2 separate regions of the Homo sapiens genome follow, and region 2 is linked to region 1. The links come from fine-mapping of genetic effects on gene expression. A gene starts in region 1. The other region holds a variant in brackets. All regions are shown on one strand. Distances are from middle to middle. Region 1 holds the start of ROS1 (ROS proto-oncogene 1, receptor tyrosine kinase). Region 2 overlaps ROS1 (ROS proto-oncogene 1, receptor tyrosine kinase).

The links. PIP is the estimated chance that this variant, and not a neighbour inherited with it, causes the effect. A credible set is the group of variants that fine-mapping cannot tell apart.
Region 2: its variant is the best candidate, but not a certain one, in a credible set for the expression of ROS1 in lung (TOPMed, PIP 0.71).

Annotation. Positions count from the first base shown.
Region 1 is chr6:117,421,404-117,431,434 of GRCh38, forward strand. It overlaps ROS1 (ROS proto-oncogene 1, receptor tyrosine kinase), which reads right to left and starts at 4,539. Exons shown (of 44, transcript NM_001378902.1): 1 at 4,131-4,539. The coding sequence starts at 4,253.
Region 2 is chr6:117,362,041-117,372,071 of GRCh38, forward strand. ROS1 (ROS proto-oncogene 1, receptor tyrosine kinase) reads right to left here. Exons shown (of 44, transcript NM_001378902.1): 19 at 4,036-4,250; 20 at 3,541-3,701; 21 at 3,020-3,164; 22 at 563-825. Among named protein-coding and RNA genes, the nearest start is that of ROS1, 59 kb to the right of the region's middle. The variant G/A (reference allele first, on the strand shown) is at 4,253.

The sequences.
Region 1 (10,031 bases):
TCCTCTCCTTCCCTCCCCCTTCTGAGTCTCCAAAGTCCATTATACCACTCTGCATGCTTTTGTGTACCCATAGCTTAGCTACCACTTATAAGTGAGAACATACGGTATTTGGTTTTCTATTCCTGGCCAAATAATGGCCTCCATAGAATAATGGCCTCCAGCTCCATCCAAGTTGCTGCAAAGACATTATTTCATTCCTTTTTATGGCTGAGTAGTATTCCATGGTGTATATATATCACATTTTTTTATCCACTCATCAGTTGATGGACACTTATACTTCTTTTTTGAAGTGGCTGTTTATATTCTAAATTCATCTTACATGCTTTTATGTGTATCAGGGATTTTTTCTTTAAAAACATTATTTATCATGTGTAATACTTTTTTTCCACTTTTTGGCTTTGCAGTTATTGTATACTGTTGTCATAACAGTTTAAGTTTCTAAGTAGTCAAATTTATTGATAATTTCTTTTTAGGGAGTCTAAATTTTTTAATTAGGCTTCTTAAGGCATTTCTACTTCAAGATTACAGAAACAGTCACCCCAATTTCTTCTAATATTTTTATGAAGTAAACACTTGCTTTGTTTTGTTTATTTGTCTGTTTGCATTTAAGTAAACCTTTCTGTTTTTGTTTCTTAGAAACAGAGTCACCCAGGCTGGAGCACAGTGGTGTAATCACAGCTGACAGCATCCTCGACCTCCCTGCTCAATCAATCCTCCCACCTCAGCCTCCTAAGTAGCTGGGACTACAGGTGCATGCCACCACGCCTAGCTAATTTTTGTATTTGTTGTAGAGACAGGAGTCTCACCATGTTGCCCAGGCTGGTCTCAAACTCCTGGGCTGAAGGGAACTGTCCGCCTCAGCCTCCCATAGTGCTGGAATTACAGGCATGAGCCATCGCACTTAACCAAAAGTCATACCTTTTTACAAAATATATCCTGAAATTTATTTGAATCTGGCAGTTATGTAGGAATTTTTTATGCTACATGGATAGCAACTCATTGGTTTGAATTGTCATCTTTATCATATTTCACATTCTTTATGTACATGGTTTTATTTCTTGATTGTATTCTGTTTTACTCACAGGTTTATTCCTGTAGCAATAAAAACTATGCTAATTTGTAAATATTTTATAAAATTTCTGAATTATGATCTTATTATATTATTTTGTTTTAATGTTATATATTGATATACAAGACAATTTTTCATGTCTGTACATTAATTTTTTAAAAATCTTCCAAATCCTATTATTTCTAATAGTCTTTCAGTTGATTTTCAGTTTATTTCTTTGGAACTTAAGATACAAATCAAAAATAAATGTATTGTCATCACCCTCTAATATTATAAAAGCACATCATGTTTGTAACAGCCTTTAACTGTCTAGTGATAGAAACCTTGATATCTCAGTATTTGATAACTTACTTTAGGGCATTGATTACATAATTCACTTCTTTTGTATTCCGAATTGCATCCACCACAGAGCTGAATATACATAGATACCTAGGAAAATTTATTGAATGGAATCCATTCAATAAATTGATATTGAATGAAATTTATTGAATGGAATTGATACTCCTGAGCCCTTCTCAATATTAGTTCCTCAGTTGTTGTGATTTGTTAATTCAAAAAAAAAAGGGGGTTTGTGATGTAATTCAGGAATGGAAAACCAAACATCGTATGTTCTCACTGATAAGTGGGAGCAAAACTATGAGAATGCAAAGGCATAAAAATGATACAATGGGCTTTGGGGACTTAGGGGAAAGAGTGGGAGCAGGGTGAGGGATAAAAGACTACAAATATGGTGTAGTGTATACATGGCTGATGGGTGCACCAAAATCTCACAGATCACCACTAAAGAATTTACTCATGTAACCAAATAGCACCTGTTCCCCCAATAACTTATGGAAACATTAAAAAAGGGTTTTGTTGCTAAAGATGGGAAAATTATGATTAAACAAAGCTTTTAACATGTTATTGTGCCCTGTGAATCTACAAAAAGAGGGCATAGCAAAATACACTTCCACAAATGATTCAACCGTGAATTCTTTTTTCTTTATCATAAAGGATCTCACAATACTAGAGTTCTGAAGAGCATTAATTGTTTGTTGTTTTCTGCAGCACATGGCTTCTAGAATTCAAAAAAACTTTTCAGTTAATACTTTCAACTAGTACATGCAGATCTCTGTTAACGTAAGATAAAAGTAATGTAAAATACCAATGCTCAAGCATAGAACTCTGCTTCGTGCAATTTGGCCCACAATTCTAACATTTTATTTTTGGACAAGACATTCTTGTGGTGACTTTTTTTTTTTAAGAAAACATTTCTCAATATCAAGAATCACCCAATAAAATTATAGATGACCTTCAGAGTAAATGTCCATGTTTTTAAAAATGATGCAGAAAATATAATAAACTTGAGCACTTTGTATATCCTCTCCTGTGAACCATGGTTACATTCAATTGTACATTCACTTCACTTTTGTCCCTCCAGGCCCTATGTGGGAACATGTAGTACTTTCACTGGTCAAATTGGCAGACCGTGTCTCTCTTGCTGTTGCCACACATCAGCTGTGCCATTCTCTGTAGGTGGTGAACGGAAGGCAACTCAACAAAGGAACAAACTGTCTATTCCTACTGCCAAACCCTGGAAGCAAGGAGCCCACACAAAAAGATAAGAATAAATAAAACGACAGTAAAATAAAATGGAGACTGCAATATTGGAAACAACTAAAATCAGTTTCAGTAGCAGGGAAATTAACAAATAAATTATGGTGGTACATTCATATAATGGAATACTCTAAAGATAATAAAGATTCTGTTTCTAAAAAAATCTCAGGGTCTAGGGGAAAACTCACAATACAATGTAATGAAAAAGCTGGTTGCATAGCTGGGTGTAAATTATAGATATATATGTATACATATATATATATGAGGAAAAATACTAAAAGAAAATTCAATCAAAAGATTACTAGGGCTAGAATTAGAAGTTTTTTATTCTTCTGTAGTTCTCTATGTTATAAATATTTTATTTAAAATGTATACTCTTATTATAATTAGAAAAAAGTTAAAATCTTTTTTAGAACATTTAGTTTTCCATTCAGTAGTTGAAACATTTAGTAGTTCCATTCTTCCATTTTTAAGTTTGGGTTACAAATATAAAAAACTAAAGCATGCAATTCTATATTAAAGGCAATGAAGTCTTCGGCAAAGATTTATATAAAATACTAAACTTTTAAAAAAATGCTACTAACCATGGTAAACCTAAGTAGTGTTTTAAACTACAGTTTAAATCAAAAGTGTATAAGTGCAAGTTTCTTTTTAATCTGCCACATAATTCTATCTCCAATACTTTAGAATAATATAATGAATACTATATTTAGTACTTGCATTATGTTTAAAAGTATGGCTATAGATAGGGTCATATGCAAACTATCATGATATTTTATTTGTCTTTAGACAGGAAGAGTGCATTTTCTCTGTCTATAGAGTACTTGGTTTTTAAAGTTAATTCAGTGACTGTTTTAAGCACAACTAAATTACAACTGAAAAGAGATGGTACAATAGTTAGAGAAGGGATGACACCCAGAAATGAGAATGAAAGCATGAATTTCCATATAAAAAACTCACTAACTAAAATAATAAATGCACAAACAGAAATAAAGAAATGTACAAATAATTATTGCTTTAAAATATTATTTTACATGGCAACTGTATCTGCTTCCTTTTTCATCCAGCTCCCTACACAGCTGGAATTAGCAGGCATTATCCTGTGGCCAAACCGATTTCAGGTTTCAAGACAACTACTAATGACTTTGTAATAAATAAGTTTAAATAGAAAGTTTTTAAGTGTGCAAAATTGGCAAAATTGATTCCATTTAAACCTCCTTTACCCAGTCCTCTAGCCCAAAAAATATATGACCACATACCCTAAAGAAATAAAATAGCCTGCTTTATCTTCTGCAATTATAAGGGCTCCTAACTTATTTAAGAAAAAATAATCTATCTTGCCTTGTTGCCACCACTTCTCATAAGAAAACTCCTCATAAAGAGAAAACAATTCTATCAGTTATAACAAGCTGAATGCTACATGTTCTAGTTCCTGCAAAGACAAATATTAGATTGTGAGACTTACCAGATTAGTTACACACGACTTTAGGCAGCTATTTAAAACTGTACACTGCACCACAGAAATCCATAGGCAGCCAAGAGTTGCAAAATTGACAAGCTTCGGAATAAGACAGTAAATGTTCTTCATCACTTCACCAATGGCAGATTTTTAGATGGCCGGTCTAATTTTCTCCATTTTGCTATATGAATTATTTGGGCTTCATCACTTCAATTGGAGGAGTAGCTGATGGATTTTGCTTTGTTTGTTTTGCTATATTAGGATATACTTGCCTTTTGAAATAATACTTAGCCTTTTTCATTTAGACCTTTGAATGCTTGAAAGCTTGTAACAGTTCCATAAGAGCTATTTCATAACAGCTTCCTTTTACTCCCATAAAGTCACCCAGTGACTAAAGGTTAGTTCTTAGAAGTGCACTTCACATGGAAATTAAAGAAAACGAATTGTATTTCAGCAAGGGTGTGACACATGCAGTCTGAAACTGGAACATTTCAGTGGGTCGTCCACCACCTTACTTCTCTGAGCTCTTTTCAGCTCTGCAGGGAATTGGGTTTTGACCACGTATGCTTTAGCAAACAGTAGCACTATTATAATAAAGAATTATTGGAAAAATAGAGGCACCCAAATCAAGCAATGCAACTGAGAGAGAAAACAGAACTCAGAAGCCAAATACATATTTTTAAATTTAAGAGCAAACAAAGCTGAAATTAATAGACAAATACCCTGGGAGAGAGTTAAAAACAAGGAAGTTGGTTAGAGTACTCTCAGAACTTTACTACATATTAACTAAAATACTGACTTATCAGGTCTATCGAGACAGCTGAAACTAGTTACCAGAAACCTAAGATATGTTCAAGTGTCTGCTTTGAGAAGGAAACATTGTACAAGCTTCCTTCCTGCCTGCCTTCCTTCCTCTCTCTCTCTCTCTCTCTTTCTTTGAGACTGAATTTCTGTCTGTCGCCCAGGCTACAGTGCAGTGGCATGATCCCAGCTCACTGCAACCTCCGCCTCCCAGGTTCAAGCGATTCTCCTGCCTCAGCCTCCCGAGTAGCTGAGACTACAGACGCCCGCCACCATGCCCAGCTAATTTTTGTATTTTTAGTAGAGATGGGGTTTCACCATGTTGCCCAGAGTGGTCTCGATCTCTTGACCTCGTGATCCGCCCACCTCGGCCTCCAAAAGTGCTAGGATTACAGGCGTGAGCCACCGCGGTACAACAGGCCAACCTCCTTGTTTTCTTAAATAAATTATACTAAATGTAACTTAACCTTTTCTTAATGATATAAGGTTCTCCCTATGAGTAACACATGCATGAGGTTTTGTTTTGAGCTGAACGTCTTTTGATTGGATTTTTGTTTGTTTGTTTTTTAATTTTTGTGGGTACATAGTAGGTGTATGTATTTATGGGGTACAGGAGATGTTTTGAAACAGACATGCCATGTGAAATGAGCACATCATGAAGAATGGGGTGTCCATCCCCTCAAGCATTTATCCACTGAGTTGCAAACAATCCAAGTATGTTCTAAGTCATTTTAATATGTACAGTTATTATTGACTGTAGTCACCCTGTTGTGCTATCAAATAGTAGGTCTTATTTATTCTTTCTACATTTTTTGTACCCATTAACTGTCCCCATCTCCCATCCCCCACCCCACCCACCACCACCCTTCCCAGCCTCTGGCAACCATCCTTATACTCTCTTTGTCCATGAATTCAATTGTTTTGATTTCTAGATCCCATAAATAAGTGAAAACATGCAATGCTTGCCTTTCTGTGCCTAGCTCAATTCACTTAACGTAATAATCTCCAGTTCCATCCATGTTGTTGGACGTGACTGAATATGGCTGAATAGTTCTCCATTGTGTATATGTACCACATTTTCTTTACCCATTCATCTGTTGATGCATACTTAGGTTGCTTCCAAATCTTAGCTATTGTAAACAGTGCTGCAATAAACATTCACATGCAGATATTTCTTTGATATACTGATTTTCTTTCTTTTAGGCATATACCCAGCAGTAGAATTCTAGATCATATGGTAGCTCAATTTTTAGTTTTTTGAGGAACTTCCAAACTGTTCTCCATAGTGGTTGTATTGATTTACATTCTCATCAAAAATATACAAGGGTTTCCTTTTCTCCACATTGCCACCAGCATTTGTTATAGCCTGTCTTTTGGACATAAGCCATTTTAACTGGGTAAGATGATATCCCATTGTAGTTTTGATTTGCATTTTTCTGATGATTAATGATGTTAAACACCTTTTCATATGCCTGTTTGTCATTCGTATGTCTTTTGAGAAATGTCTATTCAAATCTTTTGCCCATCCTTTGATTGGATTATTTGATTTTTTTTCTATAGAGTTGTTTGAGCTTTTTATTTATTCTGGTTATTAATCCCTTGTCTGATGGGTAGTTTGCAAATATTTTCTCCCATTCTGTGGGTTTTCTCTTAACTTTGTTAATTGTATCCTTTGCTGTAAAGAAGATTTTTAACTTGATGTGATCTCGTTTGTCCATTTTTGCTTTGGTTGCCTGTGCTTGTTGGGTATTGCTCAAGAAATTTTTACCCCAACCAATGTCCTGGAGATTTCCCCAATGTTTTTTGTAGTAGTTTCATGGTTTGAGGTCTTAGATTTAAGTCTTTAGTCCATTTTGATTTGAATTTTGTATATGGAGAGAGATAGGGGTCTAGTTTTATTCCTTTATATATGTATATCCAGTTTTCCCCACACCATTTATTGAAGAGACTGTCTTTTCCCCAGTGTATGTTCTTGGCATCTTTGTCAAAAATGAGTTTACTGTAGGTGTGTGGATTTCTTTCTGGATTCCCTAGTCTGTTTCACTGATCTGTGTGTCTATTTTTATGCCAGTAGCATGCTGTTTTGGTTACTATAGCTCTGTAGTATAATTTGAAGTCAGGTAATGTAATTCCTCCAGTTTTGTTCTTTTGCTTAGGATAGCTTTGGCTATTCTTGGTCTCTTGTGGTTCAATATAAATCTTAGGATTGTTTTTTTCTATTTCTGTGAAGAATGTCATTGGTATTTTTATAGGGATTGCATTGAATCTGTAGATTGCTTTGGGGAGTATGGACATTTTAACAATATTGACTTTTCCAATTAATGAACATGGAATGTTTTTCCATTTTTTGTGTGTCCTAATCAATGTCTTTAATCAGTGTTTTATAGTTTTCATTACAGAGATCTTTCACTTCTTTGGTTAATTCCTAGATACTTAATTTTATTTGTAGCTATTGTAAATGGAATTACTTTCTTGATTTCTTTTTCAGATTGTTCACTCTTGACATACAGAAATGCTACTACTGAATTACTAAATTTGTTTATCAGTTCTGCTAGTTTTCCTGTGGAGTCTCCAGGTTTCTCAGCATGTGAGATATGTCATCTGCAAACAAGGATGATTTGACTTCCTCCTTTACAATTTGGATGCCCTTAATATCTTTCTCTTGTCTGATTGCTCTAGCTGGGATGTCCAGTACTGTGTTGAATAACAGTGGTGAAGTGGGCATCTTTGTCATGTTCCAGACCTTAGAGGAAAGGCTTTCAGTTTTTCCCCATTCAGTATAATACTAGCTGTGGGTAGGTTATATATGGCTTTTATTATGTTCAGGTATGTTCCTTCTATCCCCAGTTTTTTTTTTTAGGGTTTTTATCATAAAAGGATGTTGAATTTTACCAAATGCTTTTTCAGCATCAATTAAAATGATCATATGCTTTTGATCCTTCATTCTTTTGATATGATGTAGCACACTGATTGATTTGTATATGTTGAATCATCCTTCCATCCCAGGGATAAATCCCACTTGGTCATGATGAATGATCTTTCTAATGTATTGTTGAATTCAATTTGCTAGTATTTAGTTGTGGACTTTTGCATCAATATGTATCAAAGATTGGCCTGTAGTTTTCTTTTTTGGTGTGTCTTTATCTGGTTTCAGTATCAGGGAAGTACTGGCCTCATAGAATGAGTTTGGAAGTATTCCCTCCTTCTCTGTTTTTCAGAATAAGTTGAGTAGGATTCGTATTAGTTTTTCTTTAAATATTTGCTAGAATTCAGCAGTGAAGCTATTAGGTCTCAGGCTTTTCTTTACTGGGAGACTTTTATTACAGCTTCAATCTCATTACTTGTTATTGGTCTGCTCAGGTTTTGGATTTCTTCCTGGTTCAATTTTGGCAGGTTATATGTATCTAGGAACTTGTCCATTGCTTCTATATGTTTCCATTTATTAGCATATAGTTGCTCAGAGTAGCCACTAATGATCCTTTGAATACTGCAGATATCAGTTGTAATGTCTCCTTTTTCATTTCTGATTTTATTTATTTTGATCTTCTTTCTTTTTTTCTTAAACTGGCTAAAGGTTTGTCCATTTTGTTTAACTTTTCAAAAAAATAAAACTTTGTTTCTTTTTTTTTGTTTTTTCCATTTTGTCCTGCTCTGATCTTTATTATTTCTTTTCTTCTACTAATTCTGGGTTTGGTTTGCTCTTGCTTTTCTAGTTCTTTAAAATGCATCATTAGATTGTCATTTGAAGTTTTTCCTTTTTTTTTGATGTAGATACTTAGAGCTATAAAATTCTATCTTACTATTGCTTTTGCTGTATCCCATAGATTTTGGTATATTGTGTTTTCATTATCATTTGTTTCAAGAAATTTTTCAATTTCCTTCTTAATTTCTTCATTGGCTCACTGATCGTTCAGGAGCATATTGTTTAAATTCTATGTATTTGAATAGTTTCCAAAATTTCTCTTGTTATTAATTTCTAGTTTTATTTTTGTCAGAGAAGATGCTTGATATTATCTCAGTTTTTTTAATGTTTTAAGGTTCGTTTTGTGACCTAACATCTGGCCTATCCTTAAGAACGATTCATGTGCTGAGGAAAATAATGTGTATTCTGGCTGGGTGTGGTGGCTCATGCCTGTAATCCCAGCACTTTGGGAGCCTGAGGTGGGTGGATCACGAGGTCAGGAGATCGAGACCATCCCGGCTAACATGGTGAAACCCCGTCTCTACTAAAAATACAAAAACTTAGCTGGACATGGTGGTGGGTGACTGTAGTCCCAGCTACTCGGGAGGCTGAGGCAGGAGAATGGTGTGAACCCGGGAGGCGGAGCTTGCAGTGAGCTGAGACTCTGTCTCAAAAAAAAAAAAAAAAAAAAAAAAAAGTGTATTCTGCAGCCCTTGGATGAAATGTTCTGTAAATATCTATTAGATCCATTTGATCTATATTGCAGATTAAGTCTGATGTTTCTTTGTTGATTTTCTGTCTGAATGATCTGTCCAATGCTGAAAGTGAGGTGTGGAAGTCTCCAGCTATTATTGTGTTAGAGTCTCTCTCTCTCCTTAGCTCTAATAATATTTCTTTTATATATGTGGGTGCTCCAGTGTTGGGTGAATATATATTTAAAATTGTTGTATCCTCTTGCTGAGCCAACCCCCCTTATCATTACATAGTGACCTACTTCTCTTCTTATTGCTTTTGTCTTGAATTCTATTTTGTCTGATGTAAGTATAGCTACTCCTGCTCTTGGCATGGAATATTTTTTTACAATCCTTTATTTTCCATCTCTGTGTATCTTTATAGGTGAAGTGTGTTTCTTGTAGGCAGAAGATCAACTGTTTTTTTTTTCATCCATTCAGCCAGTCTATGTCTTTTGATTGGAGAGTTTAGCCCATTGACATTTAAGGTTATTATGGACAAGTAAGGACTTACACCTGTCATTTTGTTCTTTTCATATTGTTTTTTGGTCTTCTTTCTTTCATTCTTGTCTTCCTCTAGTGAAGATTATTTTCTCTGGTGATATGATTTAGTTTCTTGCTTTTTTTTTTGTGCATTCATTGTATGTTTTTTAATGTGAAGTTACCATGACACGTGCAAATATGATTTTAAAA
Region 2 (10,031 bases), 59 kb before region 1:
ATCAATAAAAAATGTAAAACAAATCAGTAATGTGTAACATACAGAAATTAAAATCATGATACAGCTTCAAAAGAAAAGCAAAAAGAAAAAGAATGACTTACTCTGAATTTGCAAAGTTCCCTGAATGTGAGAAAGTTGTGAAAGTGTCCTTCACCCAAGCAATCCCCTCTTGCCTCTCTACTTTTGCTGCCCACTTGACCTCTTTGATCACAGTATACCTAAATTATTGACAGGGTGGCAGAATTCTTAACCTAGTCCTTTAATTATTCTTCTGTTTAAACTTTTTTTTTTAACTGCAGTCGTCTTTAATGGAATAAAAACGAATTCCTGCATATTAATCCTCAAAAGGTCCACTTTCCATTTCTTTAACAGTTTACTTTAGTCACTCTTATCTGAATTACCTCCATTAATTTTCTCACATAATTTTAAAAAACTATAGTGGCCAATCAAAATCTAGGTATGTGTGCCATTTACACTGTAACATATCCCAGAAACATAGTCTTTCCCTCTCCCCACAATGCCGCTATTAAGACTCTCATATCTTCTGTTTTCTCTCTCATACCTGGAAGGCAATAAAGCATCTGGGACTCATGCCTTCAAGTTGAAAAGACATCACTGAGGGAGTGACATTGACAGCAATCCAGTCTTCACATGTTTTGTTTGTAATACTTTGATTGGATATATTGTAGAAAATTTCAAATTTTGTTAACACCCCATTTTCATGCTTAGGTTTGTTCCACCTAAATTCCACCACAACTTCATTCTTGTTGCAGCATTTTCCACTTGGTAATATAAATATTCTGGGGTTCTCTGGTGCTGATGGAACTGAAAAGTAGAGGCACAGGTAGAGCAGAAAAGAATATAAGAATATAAAGAATATAAGACTTTTACCACTTATAATAAGATTGTAAACAACTTAACAATATTTCTCATTCCAGGCAGTTGCAGTATATTTATTACATTCTTAAAGATCTTCAGGAGAGAATATTCCATAGATTTCTTCAGGAACCCATCCTGATAATTTCAGCACATCTGACTGACAGGCAAGACTTCCTTATGTTCAACTCAAATCCTTCCTACTACCACTTAAGCACACCTTTCTTGTCTGTGCCTTGTGTAGATGGAAGCTGTCTGGTTCTCCCCGTAAAATGCAACATTCACTTTTATCCTGACAGAGTGATTTCAGTGAAGGTGAAAATGTCATCATCAGGATGGATGGCAGTAAGTCCCACCAGCCTTCAGCCAGTTCAGGTTGTAAAACACAGCATAAATCAGAGACCTAGGCCCTGTCACTCTGAAGTTCCTAGAAAGCAGAAAGTTTAGGGGAGGCTGATCGTACCCCAAGAGTAAGGTTTGGGAGTATTCATTTATTCTAGAGCCAAACCAAGCAATTCAGTATCTCTCAGTCCTTTAATCAAGAGAAATGTCTCTGCCTGATTTCTAAGTCATTCTCTCTGGATGGCCCTCTCCTCTCTTAGGACTCCTCCACAAGGTCTTCATTCCCTCCCTCATTCCAATCACATTGCTATTTAATGTTTAACACTCATACTATTATTCAATCTCCAGGCCTTCTTACATTAGGCTTCTCTTCTCACATGGGATACCTCTTCTTGCTCCATCTTTCAGAGTGCACTAAAGTTTCCATTTCCCAAAGGCACCTTCTCTCTTAAAAATGCCTGAGGCAGCTTGATATAGGTGAAGGTTTCATAGGCTTGTCTACTCACTCTATGCCACTGCTGCTCAGGTATAACTCTCTAGTATCTATTATCATTTGCTGTGCATGTGTTTATCTCCCTCCTGTTTTATGAACTCCATCAGAGAAAGCATCTCTTCTTATTCCTTGTTAAATCTTCCCATATCTAGTACAGAACTGGCATACAGTAAGTGGTTAATAAATATTGGTCAATTTGGATAATTTCCTGGCTATATTGTAAATTTCCTGAAGGCAAAGGCCAAATCTTGTCATCCTTTCTTATTCTCCAATATCCAGCAGAGTGCTGTTGACTCTTGCTCCCACTGGATCCCCTGATGGATGCAGTCAAGTCCATTTCCACAGGACAATTCAACCAAGCTGATATCCCAAGGAAATCTCAAGCAGAACATTCCTGGATCCAATGCTAACTGCTCCGGAACCTGCCCAGGCCCCACTATGTTCCTGTTGTGTAATTCGTAGATGGATATTGTTGAAATAATCTTAATAGTAAAAAATGCAATGGAGAATGGATATCTATATTTATTAAGCTCTTACCACCTGCCAAATCCTGTATTAGCTTTACATAAATTACTATCATTTACCAACATTTGTAAAAGTGACTGAATGGAGATTTGATGAAACTGTAGTGAAAAGTCCAGATTAAGTCCCAGCCCAGCCACTTAGTAACTATTTTATTTGGGCAACTACTAGGCTTTCATTTTCTTTCTTGCATAATCAAGATAATAAGACTTTCCTACCCACCTCAGAGCTCTGTGAGGATCAAATGAAATGATGTTTCTGACACATGATAGGTATGTAGTAAATAGTTAATAAAGGAGTGATACATAAAAATGTGTTTTGTACACTTTAAGGTGATACACACATGTAATGATATGGCTAGTATCTTTTTTAAAATATCTTTTCCCCAAAACATTAAATTTAGATATCAGTTATTCACCTACAGAAGATTCTGAGTTCCCATCTATGAGAACAGTCTGCCTTCCAAGAAAACTGTCTCTGCCCTTAAATGCCCATTTTCCTTATAAAGGATTTTGCAAATTACCTGAAATATGCATCTGCATCTTCTACATCACTACAATCAAATGAAATGGCTGTTAAGAAATCTTTGAAATATTCTTTTGGAATAAATTATGCATATTTATGTTAATGACGCTATTCTAATCTCCAAAAAGTCATTGAAAGGGTATTGAATCTAAACACATCTATAAAACTGAAAGTTATTTTTAAATATCAACTATCCATTCCAGATCATGAAAAGTGAGATTCTGCTTTTTTAAGAAAAAAGACAGATTTTAACCCCTGTACCTGTTTCAGGTGCTCGAAGTGACAGAGATGTTTTGGGGCCCTTTCCCCAGTAGGTATAAGGAGTGACAGAAAGATTAAATAAGGCATAAGGTTCCAGTCCTTCCACAGTAAATACAGGTAAAGAGTGTTGTTCACTAGCCAAGAACTAAAATATAAACAGAAAACATTATTTTCTCAGGGAGAGAATTATAAAATCTTTCATTCCTTATTATCTAAAATCTCCAAACTTTAGTTCACATGTAAAATCAAAATTTGCAATTTTGGAAGTGCTAATTTTGGCAAGTTCTGTGTTGTGCCACACAGACCAGTTAAAGTGTATCCAGCACAGCAGTTAGCACCAAGCAGTCAGAGACTGGCTGCAAACAAGTCTTCTGGGGAATAATCTTAATGACCAAATGCTATGGGAATGACAAAGAAGATGGGCTTGGCTAAGTCAAGATGATACAGGTCAGTGTGGGCAAGGCTGACACAGATGGTACAGTCTGTTTGGGAAATGAAAGTTACTAGAACCAACACCATACCTTAGAATGAGCACTAAATTCTACACTGTAGAAAACTACACCCCAGTCTACCGCAGGGGGACCATTCCACAGGATTTGAAAACTTGAAGCATTTCCTTCAATCCTAAATGAAGACTCTTGAACAGAATCTGGAATAACCTTAGGGGTAAAGGAAAAGTTCCCTACAGGATGAAACAAAAAAAAGAAATAGGAGAAAAAAATGGGGATTATTGACCAATATAGAAATCATAGAAAATCAATAGCAATTACTAATAATTAGAACTGAAACAAAATTTTTCTTTTCTTTAACATATCCTGAAAAAAATCATCTTTTTCTGACTTTTTCAGGCTGTAAATTTGGGTTAAGATTAAACTCACTGCAAGCAAACCAATTGAAATTACTGAAACCTTACTCCTCTTAAAACTTAATTCTTAAGAAAAAAAAATATCCCAACCTAAACATTTATTTAACTGAAGGTATAGTGGAGTAGGGTAAGCAGGAATGAAATACTGTACCTGGCAGGGGCTTAAGGGATGTCTGAATAATTGTGAACTGATTAAATCTGGCTGGTTCCAAAACAGAGACACTGGTTTTCTGACCTATTTCTTGAGTTGTGATAATCCTAAAGCCATTGATCCAGAACAGCCGACCACTATAGTACATCAGTGCATTCTGGGAAATTTCAGAAGTACTCCAGGCTGCAAATTCTGTGATGGTGGTATCCCCAGTGCT[G/A]CTAAAACATAACACCAATTAGTGTGTGTTTCTGGAGTGGTGGAAGGGCTGGTCCATGCAAGTAGTCATGAGAATATATGTTTGTGAGTATCTGTACGCATTTGTGTACATTAAAATAAAGAAAATACTTTCTAACGATTATTGTCTTTTTTTGTTTCATATTAAGTTGGGTTTTTATTTTACATTTTTAAAAGTAGTAGACCTAAAGTAAATTTTCTGGGGGCTTTCCTTGTTTCTTTGAGATGGAGTCTCACTCTGTTGCCCAAGCTGGAGTGCAGTGGCATGATCACAGTTCGCTGCAACCTCTGCCTTCCAGCTTCAAGATACTCTCCTGTTTCACCCTCCCAAGTAGCTGGGATTATATGCACACACCACTAAGCCTGGCTAATTTTTTGTATTTTTAGTTGAGTCAGGGTTTCACATGTTGGCCAGGCTGGTCTTGAACTTCTGACCTCAAGTGATCTGACTGCCTCGGCTTCCCAAAGTGCTGGGATCACAGGCATGAGCACTGTGCTCTCTGGGGGCTTTTCTTATTAATGTGATATTGCAATATCAAGGGTGTTTAGATAGGTTGCAGCTTTTTAAAAAATGCTTGTGATTTTGGTAATACTCTACAACAAAGGCACAACCTGGATTCTCATTACTTCATTAGTTCAGAGATTACATCTTTGGTTTATTCTATGTGCTCCTACAACTCTTGCATTAGCATAAGAAAGACATGAGGCAAGGTTCTTACAGGACCTGGAAATAAGGTAATCATCCAGAAATGAAACCCGTAAAAACCAATGCCTGAAGTATAAATTTGCCATATGTAGAGGTGAAGCAGAAGGGCTTTGGGACCAATCAATGCAATAAATTAGCCTATAGATGTGAAGTTAGCCTACGGATGTGAAGCAGAAGGGCTTTGGGACCAGCCAATGCAATAAATCATGATGGAGACAGCAAGTTAGGATTCAGGTACATGTTCCTTTAAAAAGGAAAGCCTATTGCATTGAGGGATTTGAAAAAAAGACACACCCAAAGAGCAAGAATTTCCAAGCATTTATCCAGAATTGACAGGAATGACAGCTCTTAAATGTGGTAGCCATGAGGACTCCAGTACCTAGGCACACAGAATAACTCTGTTATGAGCAGAGTTCATCACTGCTCTGACACTGGCCTGTGTGGGCACCCTTCTAGTCTATCCAACAACCCTCACTCAGATTCCTTGTTCTTAAAGCAACCACCTCACATCTAACCCAGTTCACGTGATGCCAAGAAGGCATGGCCTGCATGCCCACATGACTATTCTCATTTCTGAATGAGACTAGGCCCCACTGGGAATTAATGAATTTGCAATGTAGGGGATTCTTCAGAAACAGATAGAACTGCATGGAACCCCAGCTCAGCCAATTATTAAATGTTTGACTTCAGGCAAATAATTTAACCTCTCATTGAACCATCTATTAAATGTGGGTATAACACTAATAAATCTGCATCTGGGTGAAGCTGATCTCATTTCATCATAGTTTTCTCAAGAAATAAAAAGATTGATTTAAAAAAATCAATTCCATGACCCCACCACCCCAAAATGAACAGCCAGGCATAACAAGATAAACAGGGAAAATCAATCCCGAAGGCATGGTCTGTTGAATTTTTTCTCCCCATTGAACCACGCCTTCCTCCTACTCTTGGTTAGTCATCTGATTTACCTGCCATTTATTATCCTAGCCTGCTGGGTCCTTCACTTTATACTACTCACAACTGTATGTTATTTCAATGTGTATCAGTTTCTATAGTTTGATCAAAGTGCTCCTTTTCAGACTAGGAAATTCAAGTAAAAAACTTTAAATTGTGTTTAGAGGTTTTTTTCCCCTCAATGGAAGGAAATTTTGCAATTATTTTTGCTTGAAAAATCTGCTTGGTTGTTTCTGAAGTTGTAACAGTTGTTTAGTACTCAAAAAAAGAACTATCTCAGTTATCCTCAGCATTTTGGAGTGATAGTTTGATTTTTTTTTTAGTGATTTCTATAAATCATTTTAAAGCATTCACTTTTCTCTCTTTAGAAAAATATAAATAAAGTTTTGTTTTGAGAATTTCACAGTACCTCAAATAGGTTTACTCTTGTATAAACTAAAGGGAATGGATGTACATAGGAGAGGGAAGAGTAGTTTGAGGGGCAATTCAATTACAATTCTCAAGTTCGGAATATGATGAGTGACAGCAATCAGTTTATCTCATCTCTACTACAGACTAGAGCCGTACTGCTCAGTGCAGCAGCAACTAGCTACATGTGACTACGGAGCCCTTGAAATGTGGTTAGTATGACCGAGGAACCAAAAGTTTAATGTTATTTAGTTTTAATTAACTTGTGGTAAATTTTAAAACTAATATTTGATTCATATATTATGAATCACGTATAATATATTAAAATATTTTTGAGTATTTTAGAACAAGTATGTAAATCAACTATTTTGCCTGTAAATTTTATGAAATCTAAATACAGATCAAATATTTTCTATGAAAACTTAGTTTGCAAATTAAGCTATGCTATAAATGTAAAATACAAACAGAACGTCCAAGAATTAATGTGAAAAAAAGAATATAAAATAACTTTATAATTTTTATTCAGATTGCATGTTGAAGTGACATTTTGATATGTTATCAAAATATTAAAATATACTATTAAAGTTACGTTTACTTGTTTTTACTTTTTTTAATGAGCCAACTAGAATATTTATAATTACATATGTGACTTGCATTATATTTGTATTGGACAAAGCTGATCTAAACTAAAGGGAAGGAATTTTGATTATATGTTAGAAAATACTTTCTCCTTATAAGATGACTCTGGAATCCCAATCTCTATATATAAAACTTCTTTTTTTCCTGATAGGTTTAAAAGGCAAGACTTACTTGGAAGGCAAAAGTACCTGCCCTTTGTTATCTCACTGGGAGCTGCTATGCTCCACTGTACATACATACAAGAAAACATTACTAAACTTGAAATGAGGAAATACATTTTTTAAGAAGGAACTTCCTTCCTCTACTTTATATTGAGTCTGTGGATGCTCGAGGAGCTAGACTCTTAAAGAAACCAGCTCTCCCTGGCTAACATGGTGAAACACCGTCTCTACTAAAAAATACAAAAAATTAGCCGGGCGTGTTGGCGGGCGCCTGTAGTCCCAGCTACTCAGGAGGCTGAGGCAGGAGAATGGCATGAACCCGGGAGGCGGAGCTTGCAGTGAGCCGAGATCGCGCCACTGCACCAGCCTGGGCGACAGAGCGAGACTCCATCTCAAAAAAAAAAAGAAACCAGCTCTCTGGCATATACAGACACAGAGAATGCAGAGAATGGACTATGATCCTTCAGGACACTGTTGCTTTGAACATTGTCTATGTCTCACTTTAGACAGCTTGTTTTGGCAATCAGATTGTCAGTACCTTAAGTTCCTAAGGAAAGGAATAATCAGTTTTCTCTGATTCACAGGTAGGAAACTAGCCAGAGCTGTCTGCCATACTTGATATGAAGTAATTGATCAATCAGATTTGTTGTGTTTATGTGCTTATAGGCATTATGTGTGTGTGTGTATATATATGGATATATACATAAATATCTATCTACATGCATCCACGTGCATACACATATATATACACATCCATATATATGTATATGTACATGCATATACACATATGTATATACATATATGTACATACGGATGTGTATATGGATATGAATGTATGTGGATATATATGGATATATACATATGAATGCATATGGATGTATGTGTATAAATCTATATCTATAGATAGATAAATATACACATACATACACTCCTTTTTCAGGGTCTCCATGACTTGGAGTTTTTCTACTTACCAAAAAAAGGAATTTTTATTCTAAAAATATTGTCAGCATTGTCTTCATAAAATAGTTATTGAACTTTAGGAGACTTTTTTGGAATTTTGATGAAAGATATGAATCCTCAATTGCAGAGCACTGACACATCCTAAAGCCTTCTATGAACCCTTTGGGGACCCAAGAACCTAATACCAGAAATCTTTACCTTTAGAGTATATGATATTTTGCTTTACTTTAATCACTTCCTGACCATTCCTCTGATTAACAATGTGATATTAGGAAAATGTGTGAATATCTCTGGACCTCAGTGTCCTCATCTATGAAATAAAATGATCTCTAAATTCTCCCTCTAAATTTTGGGTTCTAATGACTTTATAACCTATATTTTAATTTTAGATGTGTAACTTCTCCCTTAAAAACTATTAGTTAAATATTTTTAAATTATTGGATATTTAAACAAGTAGAAGTAAAACATATGACACGAAGAACACTAAGAGTAGGATGGTAAAAATTAAACATATATAAAGTTTTAAATCATTTATGAAGGATATATTTGGATATTGACTTGATAAGTTGAAGATGTATCATGTAAAAAAATGCATATTTTAATTTCTAATGCAACCTAAAAAAATAAATAGACATACTTAAAATGTCATTAGAGGAGATAAAATGGAATACTAAAAATTATTTTATTCACCCACAAAAATGGCAAAGAAGTAGAAACAGAGGAACAAGGAGCTGAGACACAAATGGAAGTCACATGTCAAGACAGTAGACTTAAATCCAAACATATTGATAATTATATTAAGTGTAAATGAACCAAATGCCGTAATTAAAATGCAGAAGTTGTTAGATTGTGTAAAAAAGCAACATCCTGTATGTTGTTTACAAGAAAGGCACTTTAAATGTAAAGACTCAGATCAGTTCCCAAAATAGTGAATAGGAGGCAAGGACTAACTTGCAGCTCCCATTCAGATGGACAGAGCGGCATGTGGAGACTCACATCATGAACTTTTGCTCCAAGAACTACCACAGGAACATACCAGGAAAGCCGAGAGAATCCACAGACGCTTTGAAGGAAGAGGCTTGCTGCTGTAGGCTTTGTGAGATAGCCAAAAAACTGAGTGCCCAAAGTGTGATATGGGGAGTGTCCACCCCCGAACACACATCCTCTGTGGAAAACCTGAAGGTCCAGATCATGGGAGAAGGATTTGACCTCACATGCAGCTGAGGCAAATTTACAGCCAAGCAAAATATAGGGGTAGAGGAAGCAGCAGGACGAGCCCTGTGGGCACTTGCAGTCCCCAGGGAAACCATTCCTGACTTTGTCTTGCAGAGATCCTTGGGGAGGGCTGCCAGTGTAACTGGAGAAAGACCATAGGAAGAAGAAAAGTTCCAGCTGAACTTTGTAAAAATTTAAACCGAATACAGTTTCCTGGACAGAACCTGGGAAAGGGGGCAAATAGGGAGTGCAGATATGAACACAGAAACCATGACAGGTGGGAGGTATGAAACCTGAAAGCCCTACTTGCTTTTTCAGCAGGGAGGCTTGTAACCTGCGGCAAGTTCTTAGTCCTACTCACTGGCTGCATGGGAGACATGGTGGGAGTGAGACTGGCCTTTCAGGCTGTGTGGGAGTTGGGCGAGGCCGGTCACTGCTGGCTTTTCCCCACTCCCCTGGTGGCCTGTATAATGCAGTAAAGTCAGCCATAATATCCCTGGGAACATAACTCCATCAGCCTGAGAACTACACCCCCATCCCCTACAGCAGCCACACACAGCAAGCTCCGCCCAAGGAGAGCCTGAGCTCAGACATGCCTAACCCTGCCCCAACTGAGGGTCTTTCTCTACCAATCCTGGTAGCTGAAGACAAAGGACATACTCTCTTGGGGGCTCTATAGCCCCCAAACTTCAGCATCCTTTATGATTAAAACCTCAGCA